Linked DNA regions of Homo sapiens: region 2 is linked to region 1. A link means that fine-mapping ties the variant in region 1 to the expression of a gene that starts in the linked region. Tissue or cell type: esophagus muscle. Region 1 holds a variant in brackets; the other region holds the start of a gene. All regions are shown on one strand. Distances are from middle to middle.

Region 1 (8,576 bases):
TAATCTGTCCAGCTCTGGGCTAGAAAGAGATGAATTCCTGGTTTGCCACCTAGATATGCTCCCTGACTCCAAATCATCTCACCCAATTTGCCACTCATCAGCTCTAAGACAGCCAGTGAGGAACAAAGCTGCAGACGACAGGGGAATGACAGACCGACATAGAATATATTGCCTTTCTTACCCTTCCTCGTGTCCCTGAACCCCATGCCCACTCCCTGTACCACAGTTCTAAAAGTATTAAGAGTATTCATGTGCATACACTGGTGCTCTCTGGGGGTGAGGTTTATGTTAATGTAAATCCAAAGTATTGGAGGAAAGCTGAGAGCCAAACTGAACGACTTTGGATTACAGTCGAATTCGAGTTCTAACCTTCAGGACCCAAGGTAATGCTTATGTTGGTGAAGTGAAAGCTGTGGATGTTGTTTCGCCTGACTCTCTTTGGGTTGTGGAGACTCACAGCTCCCAGAAAGGCTGGGTAAAGACGTGCCAGCAGCTGCTGCAGACACTGTTCTGTGTGCACACCGTGTCGGGCCATGACTGACAAGTACAGTGGCTAAGTGCTAAGTGCTTCACTTCCGTAAGAGAATAAGCAGACCAGGGCACGTACACTCTCCTTGAAACTGTGCTTACCATGAGGCTTCACAGGCCAGTCATGCTCTCTTGTAAAAAATATATACATAAAATCTCATCTGAGCAGCAGTGCTCATTTAGCCAAAATAAACACAGGGCTTAGTAACTTGAAGGTAAGAATTTCCAGGGTGCTCCTGGTGGGCCGCTTTGAGGCTAAGCAAAGGCAGTGCACAAGTTGCATGGATTAGGCCATGGCTTTCGTCCTGGAGGATGGCAAGCATCTTTGGGAAGAAGAAACCAAGGCTTGGGGAGCAGAGACTTGGCCAATGGACACAGTAAAGAGCAGAATCTGAATTGGGAATGGAGAATTTCATTCACCTTGGCACGTTTTACATGGAGATCTGAGTTGGTAACCAGATGAACCTAGTGCCATGGGTCTCTTCTTTCTGGCTGAGACCTGTTTGACCACAGCATGCAACTCTGCCTTGAGCAAACTTTTCTGTTTGAGAGAGGAGAGGACTGTGTGTTCCATCTAACCTAGTGACTCATATACTATTCCTCTTATGGTCAGGACAGCAGGAGTCCTCTCTTGATCCGGGCATAAAATCAGCCTTTTCACTCAAAAAATGGAAACAGAGAAATCAGGGGGCAGGCAAGGTATGGAAAGTTGATGTTGAAACACTGCCAACCATAGGCATTTACATTGTTATACATTTTTCAAATTAGAGTGTTTTTCTTTTCCCTTATAAATTAATCATGCAACAAAGGTAATCTCATTCTTTGGGAGCAATCACTGTACAGGTAAATCTTTAGTGAAATACAATAAAAGTGGCCTTTGGACCTGGAGTTATTAGATGGTCGCAATCTTTTATATTTGGAAGTATCTTTCATTTTCCGCCTCTTACTGATTTCTTGCCATGCAATATTATTTTAAATTTAAATCATCCTGTGTTTTCTGCTGTGTGTGTGTATATACATACATACACACACACACACACACACACACACACACACACAGACACATTGTGTGCCAGGATGTGAGTCAGTAATGAAGAAAAGCCTGGAAGAAAAAGAGATCTGTGTTGAGAAGGGAGAAAGAGAAGAAAGAATGAATAAACTGTGTTGTCATGTGATTTTTTAAAAAGACCCTTTTTTGTGGTTGTTATGAGTCACATTTTAAACAATGTAGCCTGGGTGTGCATTCTTTTCTTTTCTTTTTTAAAGCAGTGGCTATAAACATGGTGCCGTCATGTATCTTTTTCTAGGATTTGAGCTTTAACAAATGAAAAACCGTGTGTATAAAGGGGGGAAAAAGAACCGAAAAGTGGTGTAATTAAGGTGATGGATTATTTCCTCTTACCCAATACTTTCTTTTTTCAATAAAGGAAACAAGAACAATAAAGAAGCCAGTAAAAATATATGAAGCCCATAATCAGAGTTCTGGGGTTTGTTGACCAGGTGGTTATTTTTAGCAGCTCACCTTGGAGGCAAGAGTTTTTGTTCGTGTTAGAGGCTGTGGTTTCTGAGCAGAGCACGGGCAGAGAGACGATCTGGTGCCCTACCTGTTAGAGACTCACGGAAATCCCAGCTGGGTGCACCTGTGGAAGGTGGTTGTCAGAGGGAAGGATTCAGAATGACTGTCCTACGCTAGTGGATGCTAAAAGGAACATCAATGTCTCCCGTTTCAGCTGGGAATGTGGGGTTTATGACTCAGACCATTCCTAAGGTCCAGGGGCCCCATTTCTCGGGTCTCCCTAGGTGCCTTTCTGCAGTTCTCCACAGTTCTCATCCAGACAAAACCAGGAGAAAGTGCACATCCACAGCTGTCTCTTGGGCATAGAGGGGAGCAGTATTAAGAGAGGCCCATTTTGGGGGTAATGCTGGCTGGCATTTGACTCTATTCCTTAGGCTTTAAGTTCTGTTTCTTTGGTGCCAACTGGCCAATCTCTGCATTTTGCACCCCCTTCTCTCCTTTCCCATTCCCACCCTCACCCTCTATTGCCTGCCTCCCAAGGCTTTGTCCACCAGGGTAAGGTCCCCCATCCCAGGGCCTGGCCTCACATTCCCTTTCTCCCTGGACTCCCTTCCTCCCACGCCTCCTTCTCCTAGAAGCACTTCTGAGATGCAGAGAGGGTTAAATGGTGCTTTTGCACATAACCGTCTGATGAAAGGCAGAGAAGTGTTCCTAACCCCTGCCGGGGTTCCAGATAGGCAGCTGTAGTGTGTGAATCCTCCTCCTTGCCCCCACCCCCTTATGTCTCCAGCTGCCAGATTAAGGCTAGGTGTTGCTGAGCAAGAAAGCATGGAGATCAGATGTGTGAAGCGGGTAACTGCTTGGCGGCCATCCTTCCCCAGGGGACACAGAGGTGTTCTTTGTGAGGTTCGCTGGAGCATGCCACCTCTCCTGCTACAGAGGCCTGACACGTCCCCTCTCCATCAGTTTACCACTCATGTAAACAACTGCCGAGGCCAGCTTATCTATGGGTGGAAGAAAATGTTTTTCACCAACTTTTCTCTCCAAGAACACAGGGACAAGACTCAGTTTACAGAAAGTAGCATAAGTGCCACCAAAGAGTGTGAAGCGTCCGAGACTTCAGCCAGTCAGAGATCTGAATTCGGAGGCATTTAAAAATGCCTCTAGATGTGGGAGCAATCCACATGGTTTCTGCCAACTTACTGAAAACATCCCGGCGCCTCCCGCCACACCATGCTCATAAGGCAGATGGAAAGAGTCGTTTCTCAGGGATGCCTTTGTGCTTGTGCGTCTTTTTTCCAAACACATCAGAGGGCGTGACCACATTCTTCTACTATCTTCTGTAAACTTCTCTAGAGGAGCCAACCTTTTTCGTTTGTTTAATCTCACAAATTAAATAAA[C/A]CTTTATGTGAAATGTTCCTCCACCAGCACTTCATTTTTAACCTGTACAGAAAGGACTGTGCAGACAGGCCAGTCCTAAAACAATTCTGACATGCAATGAGCCTTTTTTGAAAGAGAAAGAGAGAAGGCTTACCCTTGGTGTCTTTCAAAACACTTCTTCTGGAAACCTGGGTGACTCCCCCAGGTCCAGATGATATTTCATAAAGCAGCTATAGTATATGCTTTCTCATTTCAGAGATTCAGTGAGAAACTGACTTGACTGAGACACGCCAATCCTCAGACAGGTTCAGACAGAAATAGGAGGCAGAAAGGAAGAGGACTGTTTCCTCTTCCCTCCCTACTTGGTTAGAGCAAGGAATCTGCAAACTTGTTCTGTAAAGGCCAGATAGTAAATATCTTGGGTTTTACAGGACATACAGTCTCTGTTGCAAGTATTCAGCTCTGCCATTGTGGCATAAAAGCATCCATAAGCAATATGTAAACAAATGAGGGTGTCTGTGTTCCAACAAAAATTGATTTACACAAACAGGCAGTGGGCTGGATTTGGCCAATAGGCCACAGTGAGCTGACCCCTGGGTTAGAGCACAGGCTGGGATTTTGTCCACCTGGTTCTAGCCGTGACTCTGACACTTGCTAGCAGTGTACAGTTCCTCAGGGGACCCTGGGCCATCTCTTGGGTTTCACTGAATGCTTCTCTGCCCTTCTCCACAATTATCCTCCAAGTGAAACCAGGAGAAAATCACTTGTCCTCTCAAGTACTCAGGTCTCCCTTTGGAGGGTCATGAGGAATAAACAAAATTGATTCATGTGAAGCCCGTAGACCAATGGTTAATACACAGGAAATGTCCACTCAGGGTGGCCGTTGTTACAGACACGTTTCCCAATTGCATAGTGACCCTATTTGCAGATAGGAATGACCGGAACACTACCTCATGTGTAACTGTTTTTCTTATTTTCTCCCATGCCTGGTTTCTCAAACTTTATTGTTTCTCAAAATTCAAATTCTTTGTGTTTGCATTGCTTTTCTCCAGGGGGCTCAGAATTTTTACAGATGGGAGCCTGTGCAACCTTGCAAATGCACTTGGAGTTCAGTTATTGACTATTTAAGTATCTGTTTCTGATTATCTCACACAATGGGAAAACTTTGTAGAGAATCTGGGGTGGGAATTAATGAAAAATAGTTCAGGAATTGAAAGTGTTTTCCAGGTGAAAAAAGACATGTGAGTAAGCGGTAGAAATTAGATCAATCAAAGGGAAAATTCAGGTCAACAGATCAACCAACTCCAGGCAAGGTTGAATTCTCACCTACACTTTCACCCACCTAGCCCAGGCTCCTTTTTTGTCAAGCAATGGCTCGATCACCCCCAGATGGCTGAAGGGGCAAGTGAAGCTAAAATTGCACAACTCAGCAATTCGGGCATCTGGTGCAGGTGACATCTGCCTAAAGTGGGCACCTTTTTCTAATTTCCCATAGAGGTGCCACATGAGCTAGCAAAATCTCTAGCACTTTCTGAAAATAACTCTCCAGGGAAGTACCAGTAGGTCATCAACATTTTCCAGGGAGTCTGAACATTGGTCCAAATATATTCCCCTATGCCATCCGTCCATTTATCCATCCACCTATCTATTCATCCATCCATCTGGCATTCATTGGATTGCTGATGTTGTCTGGGAAGGTGCTTTGGGTATGGATTTAACCCCTATTGATTTATCGTCTTCCTTTTCTCTAGTTGGCAAACCACAGCCTCATTAGCATACAGCTCTCCAAGGCTGGAACAGGGCCAGATTCTAAACCAGCACACTCCACCTGCCTTTGGAGTTGAGTCTTTTTAGCTAGTGAATGTTCTGAGAAACTTCTAGCCCCCAGCTGCAAGTCAACCAAGAGTTGCTTGTAGGGGATCAGGAAGGGTTTGCTAGTCATATCCTCTCTTTTCTAACATTAACGTTATTTCTAACCTCTTGACATTAAAACATGAATTCACATAGTACTATTTCTCATTTCTCCAAACAAATGCCCAAAGAAAATGTTTAAGGAGCCAGTATAATGTCCCCCAAGTAGCTTTTGTCACTGAAGTTTTCTACATGTTGATAATTTCAGGGGAGAGAAGGATAAGTAGAGAAGGAGAAGAGGGTCTTACTTAAAGTGGAGTTTGTCTTTCAAGTAGAGCAGGATTCTGAGAGACTATGTCTGTGTCTCTGATTCTAAATATGTAATCCATGTACTAGGATTTCACCTTCCTCCAGCAGGTCCCCTTGATTCTCTCCATTGTGCCCTAACATTGTCTCTTATCGTAAGAAACACTGTAAGAGAAACATGAAGGCTTCATCCTTCTCCAGCCTGAGCACTTTAAGCCATAGGTTGTGTATTTTGTGTTGGAAACCAGCATTTTGGCTGAAGGAAAGCAGACTTTTGAACAAAGATGATGTAGTGATGGAGGGAATGTGGGTAGTTGTGACCATGTTCTGCTTGACAAAAATTTCTGCTCCCACCTCTGTGGTCTGGTCAGGTACTTCTTTAGAGGGAAAGCTAATCCCTGAGGATTTATCACCTCCCTTTTCTTGATGGGTGAGCTGCAGCCTCATTAGGGGATGGCCCTCACTGTGGAGCCACATGAAAATCAGAGACAAACCCCAGGACACCCTTTGGGGAGAGAAGGGATGTCTCTGAGGAACTCTGGGGGCATCCCTTAACACTTTGATGTTTCCTGTGCATTTTTGTAAGCTCATATCGAAAATCCAGCAGCAGGATGGTTGCCAGGCAGCAGATCCTCTTGGTGACCTGAATAATGAATTGACACCAGTTGACTGTGACTTGCAAGCTGGCCACTTCAAGGAGCCATTTCCAGCACCTTGCTTTCTCTTCCTCTCTTTCTATGCATAATTTCCACCATGGCCACAAATATGAGAGAGAGAGAGGCCTTTCTCAGCTATGGTAATGAAACTAGTAAAAGACAGAATTAGTTTGGGGACAAAGACAAAGAGGGCAGGCAATAAGGTGGGAGAAGAGGAAGATGTATAAAGGGACATTCAGGGGATCCTGGGATTCTGGGGTCATTTCTACCCCAGGGGTTGTGGATGTGGCTGTCAAGGTGTGTGCAGAGCAACACATCCTTGTCAAAGCTCTGCCAATGTTGTGGGACTTCTGGTCACCCAAGAGGTGCCAATGAACCTGCACCCTAGCGGAAGGGGATTCATACAGCAGGAGAAAGCAGTGATTAAGAGCTAAGAAGTTGAGCAGGCTTTGAAATATTTTCCAAGAAAAATGTTCTCATTTTTCTATCACTTCTGAGAAGACATTAGAAGGTCTGACCCACCTCCCACCTATTCCCCAGATCAAAGAGAGGAGTTCTGATGTTCAGGCTGCAGGAATTAGAGAACACAGACTCAGAAATAGGAGTCTTAGCCTCAGTTCAGTGTTTGATTCACCAAGCATTTATTGAGTGCCTTCTTTGTATAAACCCTTAGGTATGGATGAGAGCAAGTTCCTCATGATGAGAGTGAGTTCCTCTGCTTAAGGAGCTCTGAATCTTAGGGTGGGTAGTGTAAGGAGGCATGAAAATAGAAATGAGCCCCGTTTGCATCTTGAGCAGAGGGGGACCACCCTCTGCTCACAGGGTAGGACCACTAATGCATGAAGGAGCCCGCAGCACTTCCCACCCATGGCTCCCCTGCTGGGGCACCCCATGAGTAGAGAGGATGCATCTTTCCGGCTTAATGCAAACAGCTAGGGAGGCATTTTTCATAGGAGAAGCATATATCATTTTTCAGAAGTAAAGATCATGTCTGGTTTTGGCAAGCTCAAAAGCTCCTAGTCCCTTTCTGGGCCAGATTCTCATCTGATGTAAATCTTTGGGAGAATCAAGTTGTAACACTGCTTTGCATCAAGTGGGACTCCAGCCAGTCTTTCCCCAGAGTTACCCTGGGCTTAAATCTACTACATCATCTCCATAGCAACCGGCAGCGGCCAGTGAACGTGGTTGCCTTCTAAATACTCTGCCAGCTTCTCTTCCCTGCTCTGTCTTTTCTGTCATTAAGAATGATTTCCCTCCCTCTCTCTCTCACTCACTCACTCTCGCTCTCACATACCCTCTGTCATTTTGTGCCCACATTTTTTTTGTTGCAACTTCCCTTCCAATCTGCTTTTAAAAATCCTCCATCCAATTAAAAAATGAGGATGCATTAGTCATGACTTAACAGTGGTGATTGACCTGTCTAGGCAAGACCAGGCTAATTTCAATGGGCACAGAAGCCTTGGCAAGCCAAAGTGGAATTTACCTTCAAGTCTAGCCAGCTTAATTAATACATTGTTGCTGAGAATGCTGGCCAGCCAGACCAAATATGGTGTTTCCACCACTCAGGAAATCTGCCTCACTGAATCCCGGAAGTCATGTCAGCATCATTTACTTGTATGTATTTGTGTATGTGTATGTGTGTGTGTGAGAGAGAGAGGGAGATGGAGGGAGAAAGAATTAGAACACTTCCATATATTATAAAGTGATTGTGGTTGAACAGAAAGAGAAGAGATGTGTAATTCTACCATTCTTGGTTGAATCCCATACTTACTATTTAACTAGCTGTATAACCACTTAACTTAACCTCTCTCCACCTCTGTTTCCTCATCTGTAAAATGGGTCTGACAATAGCTACCTCCCAAGGGGGTAAGTAGGAAATAATGCAATCGTTGAGAAGTGCTTGGCAGGTGCTAAGGACTGAGTACCACCTTAGTCCCCCAGACCCTTCCCTGTATGTCCCAAAGCATGTGTGTGTTTCTTTCTTTTTTTAAATTAGTCTTTTGATTAGTCTGCATGCTCTCAGCCTAGCAACACTCTTCTGTGTCTCTCCACCAGGGGGCACCCTCCTGCCAGGGACCGAGCCCACAGTGGACACGGTGCCCATGCAGCCCATCCCAGCCTACTGGTATTACGTAATGGCCGCCGGGGGCGCCGTGCTGGTGCTGGTCTCCGTCGCGCTGGCCCTGGTGCTCCACTACCACCGGTTCCGCTATGCGGCCAAGAAGACCGATCACTCCATCACCTACAAAACCTCCCACTACACCAACGGGGCCCCTCTGGCGGTGGAGCCCACCCTAACCATTAAGCTAGAGCAAGACCGTGGCTCGCACTGCTGAGGG
Region 2 (5,785 bases), 90 kb before region 1:
TAACTTTCCACAGGGGTGTGGCTTGGTAACAGCTTTCTCTTAGCATCATTTACCAACCTGTTTCATGTTCCCCCACATCCCTTCCCGTCAAAGGAATGGAATGTGGAGTGGATTATCTAGTATTATTTTACAACTAAGGATAATGACATGAAACATCCTAGGTGAGTCAGTGATGTGGCCAGGAATCTCAGCTTCGCTAATTAGCTGTTATCTAGTCAGCTCAGTGTTTTTGATCACAAACCCGATTTTTGACACTGGCCTTTAGGTAGGCAGGCTTCCCTATGGGCCAGGGATGTGGACTCACAAAATACTGAAAAGCACGGTGCCTACCTAGCTCTTTACCACTATACCTCTGGTGGAAACCAGACCAACTGCAGTCAAACCCTGAGATCCCAGTCTAGAGGGAAACAAGACTGGCAGGTCTGAGCCAGTCCCAGTGTGAAGAATTTCCCTAAAGATTTGTTTTCCATGTGGCACATGTGAGATTTGTGTTTAGTTCCCAAGAGTCCTTGGAAGTCTTAGGTTAAAACAATTCTAAGCCCTCTCTGGGCCGGTGGGGTCTTGTTCAGAGTAGGCTGGGGAGAGATCGGCCTCACTCTGAATCTTCCCTGGTCTGATAAAGCACTTTGAACTCCTTGGAATTAAAAGCACCACCAGAAGTGTGACCCTGGGTGGTGTTACCATTATTTATTGAGTGCTGCCCCCTAGAGGATTGAAAAATGGTCTGGCCGCTTGAGTCCCCAGGGATGGAAACCTGAGACTCACTCTCTGTCCAACTGCAGGAAATGAGGCCTTCACTCAAGGGGAGTGGGAAGTCTTGCAGCCCTGGTACAGAGGACTCCCAGGAAGTAAGTGAGCGTCCCCTGTAGGACACCGCTGAAAAATGAAAAGTTACAGTGTAGGCAACCAGGCCAGGAACAAAACTGATTCTTACTTTTCTCTACTCTGGAAGCAGCCTGATGGGGACCTTCATCCCTGAGACCCCAAGACCAGAAGTCCAGGGTTGTCATTCTTATGGTTCTCCAGTGGGCTTAGGTTTACCTTTTCTCTCTTCTTTCCCCCTTTCACAGTGCCCTTCACCTAAACCCTGGCTACATTATTCTCACAAACAGGAGTCTCCCACATTGGGCACTGGCAAAAATGGTTTGGCATGCCTGGTGAGTGGTGGGGAGAGGTGATATTAAATGGCCCTCTCTATTCAGGGACTGTCACTACAGATAGCGTTCTTTGTCCTTAGATTAGCATCTTGGCAATGACATAAACCGGGATCTCTGCTTAAGGTTAATAATCCAAACTGCTCTTTTACTTTGTTAAATATTTAAGGCTTGGAGTCATTCTTTACAATTGAGCTTTAAAGAGGAGAAATGTAAATCTGGAGTTTTTAATAATGTGGATGTGCTCTCAAGCCTAGAAAGGAAGGAAGAAGGAAGGAAAGGAGGGAGGAAGAGGAAGGAGGGAGGCAAAGAGGGAATGAAAGGTAGCATTTAGGCTAGCCAAGAGACATGCTCCCTGGAAGAACTCAGAGGCCTCTGTGCTGTGCCTTTCCCAACCAGGCATCTGAGATTAACAGTGTGATACTCAGCCTGTGGATTTCCACTCTAAAATCCCGCGCCACCCCCCAACACAGCTTGGCTCAACTATTTGCAAATCACTTCTGATTCAATTTTGTTTTGGTTATCTCAGTGTAAATAACAGTTAAGTGGGAGTTACAGATTTTTCAAACACTAAAAGTGATAAAGCTAATGGGCAAGTCCAGATAAGGAGGGAAACCACCCAGAAGAATCCACAAGTACAAGCCAAGAAGAAAATGGGTAGTCAGGTGTGTGTTTCTCGTCACCGAAACTGTATTTTTCTTAATCTACAGAAAATTTTACTTTCTTAATTTAAAAAAAATCTTAATCTGTAAATATTTTTCTGAATTTTCTTATTTTTCATATACCTCTTTTGTGGCAGAAAAGGTGTACATGTGCAGGGTGTAATTTAGGCTGTTTCTGTTGCAGTCTTTATGATAATGTAGTAATAGGTGTCTGGTGAAGCAAGACAGTTTGGAATCCACAAAGCCATCCTCAGAAACAAAGATACAAGTGTTTCCCCAACTGTTAGCTTGCAGTTCCCTCTAAACAGTTTTCACGCCTCCATTTAAAAATAGTTGGCATAATGATGTTTTCTTTCTCTAGGCTTTGTGACCACGTTTCCATGGGGGAAAATGTGAATAGACGTAGTTACAGTAGCATTTGGATGAGACGCCTTCAAGCACCTATACTTTTTCGGGGGAACTTGATGGAATCCAATTTAATTACCTGAAGAAATTATTTGCTGAAGAAAGTCTTTCCTCTTTTTAGGGTAGTTACAGTTAAAGGCGCAGGGGTAACGAAATCCTAACCCAGAGAGGAGCAGAGCATGTTTGGGACATAACAAAGGATCTGAGTAGTAAACGCAGCGAGTGTTTGGGGTTTTATTCAGACCGGGCTGACGGTGTGTGTCGCCGCCACGCACCGCTGCCTGTTCGAACGCATGGCTGAGCTGCCGACCGGCTCGCTACCCCAAACACCGTACGCCACCCAACTCCTCTTGTAACGCCATCGCGCGTGGCATTGTGTTGGGTTCTGCGTGTGTGGCATCGGAGTCGTGGAATTTAGGGGGAACAAGGCTTTTCCCCCCGTCCCCCCGGGGTCTCCCTTGGGTGGGGGCGACACGGCCAAGGCGGCGCGCCCTGGGGGTGCCCGGGGGCGCTTCTTCCCCAGGGCGTTACGCACCGGCGGCCCGGCGCGGAGGTGCGCGGGGGCGATCGGGAGATGCGGGGCGGGCGAGGGGTGGTGGGATGGGCGCCGCCTTAACTTCGATCCTGCGGCGGCCCGAGAGAAGCCGTCGCCGCCCCGCCCGAGCTGGGTGCCGCGGCACTCTGCTCTGCGCCGCGCGTCTCCGCGGCTGCCTCTTTAATCAGGAACACAGAAGGGGCGGGCCCTGAGCCGGCGCGTAATCGGATAGCTCTGCCGCGGCTCTGACATCCACATGCTGCTCGGCCTGAAAAGGCAGTGGGGAGCCGGAGGGGAGGCAGAGATCGCGAGCGAGGCACCAGCCTGCAGCCGGCCCCCAGCACATCCTCAGCCGCACAGACACTCGGCGAGGTGGAGGTGAGGGCGGGCGCCAGCGAACTCGGAGAGGGGCTCGCTCACTCCCAGGCGATCCCAGCCGCCACCGCCGCCGCACCAGCAGCAGCAACAGCAGCAGCAGCTTCCTTCCTCAGACTCCCCTCGAGAGGCTGGCCAAGCGGGTGTAGCCGTTGGGGGAGGCTCCCGCCGGGGGAACCCGGCGAGGACAAGAGCAGGGCGGCCGCCTTCCACTCGGGCTGTCCGGCGGCGGCTGCCTCCGCCCGTGTGTCCGTCAAGGGTGCCGCGGGATGTGTGTCAGTTTACGCCTCTGAGATCACACAGCTGCCTGGGGGCCGTGTGATGCCCAAGGCAAGTCTTGGTTTTAATTATTATTATTATCATTATTGTTACGCTTGGCTTTCGGGAAATACTCGTGATATTTGTAGGATAAAGGAAATGACACTTTGAGGAACTGGAGAGAACATATATGCGTTTTGTTTTTAAGAGGAAAACCGTGTTCTCTTCCCGGCTTGTTCCCTCTTTGCTGATTTCAGGAGCTACTCTCCTCCTGGTGAGGTGGAAATTCCAGCAAGAATAGAGGTGAAGACAAGCCACCAGGACTCAGGAGGGAAACGCTGACCATTAGAAACCTCTGCATAAGACGTTGTAAGGAGGAAAATAAAAGAGAGAAAAACACAAAGATTTAAACAAGAAACCTACGAACCCAGCTCTGGAAAGAGCCACCTTCTCCAAAATGGATATGTTTCCTCTCACCTGGGTTTTCTTAGCCCTCTACTTTTCAAGACACCAAGTGAGAGGCCAACCAGGTAAGCCACTGAAAGTTTTTCTATTTATTGCAACATGGTTTCCCCTTTAAAAGTGACCGCTAAAGCAGGAAGGCCACGCAGAACGGCACAGAAGAAGGCTCCCTCAGTACTCAATAATTTAAAGAGAGATCCCAGCCGGCCCTTCCTACACCACCACGGCTGCTAAAACCCAACTTTCCTCTCCTGCTAGGAGTGTGTGTGTGTGTGTGTGTGTGTGTGTGTGAGTGTGTTTTGAAACAGAATTTGGCGGTGTTCATATGTCACATATGGACTGAATCAAAGGTTTAAAAATACTACAAAGCCTTTGCATTACAGTTTTTGGGAATTTTTTTTCCCTGTCTTGAAGCAGAACACATCTCCCTTGAGTTTCTCCAACTAGCCAGTGAAATATAAATCATTTGCATTCCCTCCACTTAGCTACATTGAGCAATGTTAACTGAAGGGCTTGGGAAAGACAAGAGTTTAGTTTTGGTTTTCAGATGCTGTAGATTCTTTGGAGAATGACTGGTTATGCTTCAGAATCATAAGGCTCAGGCTGGTGGAGCAAGTTGGCTTGTGGCTGAGATAGGGGCTTGGGGTTGGGTGCTGCTGGCAACCAAGACGGTTGGTCTCTTCTCTCTTCATCCATGTGTTGTCTGGGAAAGTAAATCGTACGTTCTTTTAGAAATTATTATTAGCTAAAACAAATTGCAGGCCCTCGAAGGTCTCTCACTCTTGTGAAGTGGTTAGAAACTTTTGAGTGGAATTTGTTCTCAACCACTGCCAAAAAGGGTGTGTGGACAGGCTGCTGTGGAGATAAGCATTTCGAGGCCCAGAACAGTCTGGGGACCGCATTTGTGGGGAGCGGCAAGGGGTATGCTCTGGAAAGGGGAATCCATGGGGAATGCAGTGGGGTTTGTGCTTCCTTCTCGGACCACTCTCTAGAGTGAGCCTCCCTACCCCTCTGAGAACAGTGTCTGGAATCTAACAACAAAACTCTTAGCAGCTGCTACAGGTGATTGGAGATGGAGAAACCATCTATGGAGGAAATGGGTGAAAGAAAGGCGAAAAAGCCTTCCTGAAGTGCCCTCACCCAAGGCACTTGCAAGGCGATGGCGGCAGTGGTAGAGCTAACTCTGCAGCCTCCTTGGCATCCCCAGAACATCAGCTAGTGGATCCTAGCCTTGCATCTGGTACTGTCACCCTTCCTTCTCCTCACGCCCCCCACCAGCACACACACCACTTTAAGCTTGGGCATTTATTTGAGGGGGGAAGAAAATTCAGGAATGCCTTTGCCACCCAGATCCGCACGTTTGCAGCTCTTTCTTTGCCATAAGTGGTCTTCAGGGCAGCTGCAAATCCTGCCAAAGGGATGGGTGGGGGTCCCACTTGGGGAGATTTTCTGGGCCTCCGCCGTTCCCCCTTGCCTTATTTCTAAATTCCCAGCTTGAAGCGGAATTAAATTACCACTCACAGACCTGGATGCTGCGTAAATTATGTATGTTTGTGTGATTCGCTGTGTGTGTGTGCACACGCGCGCGCGCCGTGAGGATGCCCACAGTATATTATGTATTCAGACACGGACTCCAGTAGGCCCCAGCGCGCGAGCGCGCACACACTGGCACTCACACTGGCGCGCACACACATGCAACTTCAGGTTCCGTGTGCTGTGCGGAGCGGGAGGGGTCGTGAAGACTCAGGGGCCATCTCCTACCCCAGATGTTCGCACATCTGTCCCCGAGCGCTGCTTGGAGTGTGTGTACGTGTGTGCGCGACACCCGCTTGGACCCACTCCCGCTCTGCCACCTGCCTGCCGCGCTCTCTGCAGAACCCCCTCCCATCCCAATCCCCAGCAGTGCTGCGTCACTTCCAGAGAAGCCCAGAGGC

Alleles and levels. Alleles are on the strand shown, and positions count from the first base shown. SD is a standard deviation of normalised expression in the study named.
As copies of A replace C in region 1, the expression in esophagus muscle of the gene that starts at base 3,057 in region 2 goes down (small effect, 0.39 SD a copy in GTEx).

The links. PIP is the estimated chance that this variant, and not a neighbour inherited with it, causes the effect.
Region 2: NRP2 starts here. The variant in region 1 is fine-mapped to the expression of NRP2 in esophagus muscle (GTEx, PIP above 0.99). The same link has a PIP of 0.9 or more in gastroesophageal junction and lung.

What each region holds. Positions count from the first base shown.
Region 1 is chr2:205,767,954-205,776,529 of GRCh38, forward strand. The region is part of intron 15 of NRP2 (neuropilin 2); the gene reads left to right. Among named protein-coding and RNA genes, the nearest start is that of NRP2, 90 kb to the left of the region's middle. The variant C/A (reference allele first, on the strand shown) is at 3,446.
Region 2 is chr2:205,679,445-205,685,229 of GRCh38, forward strand. It overlaps NRP2 (neuropilin 2), which reads left to right and starts at 3,057. Exons shown (of 17, transcript NM_003872.3): 1 at 3,057-3,919. The coding sequence starts at 3,847. RefSeq lists enhancers at 1-170, 5,052-5,682 and a silencer at 2,458-2,577.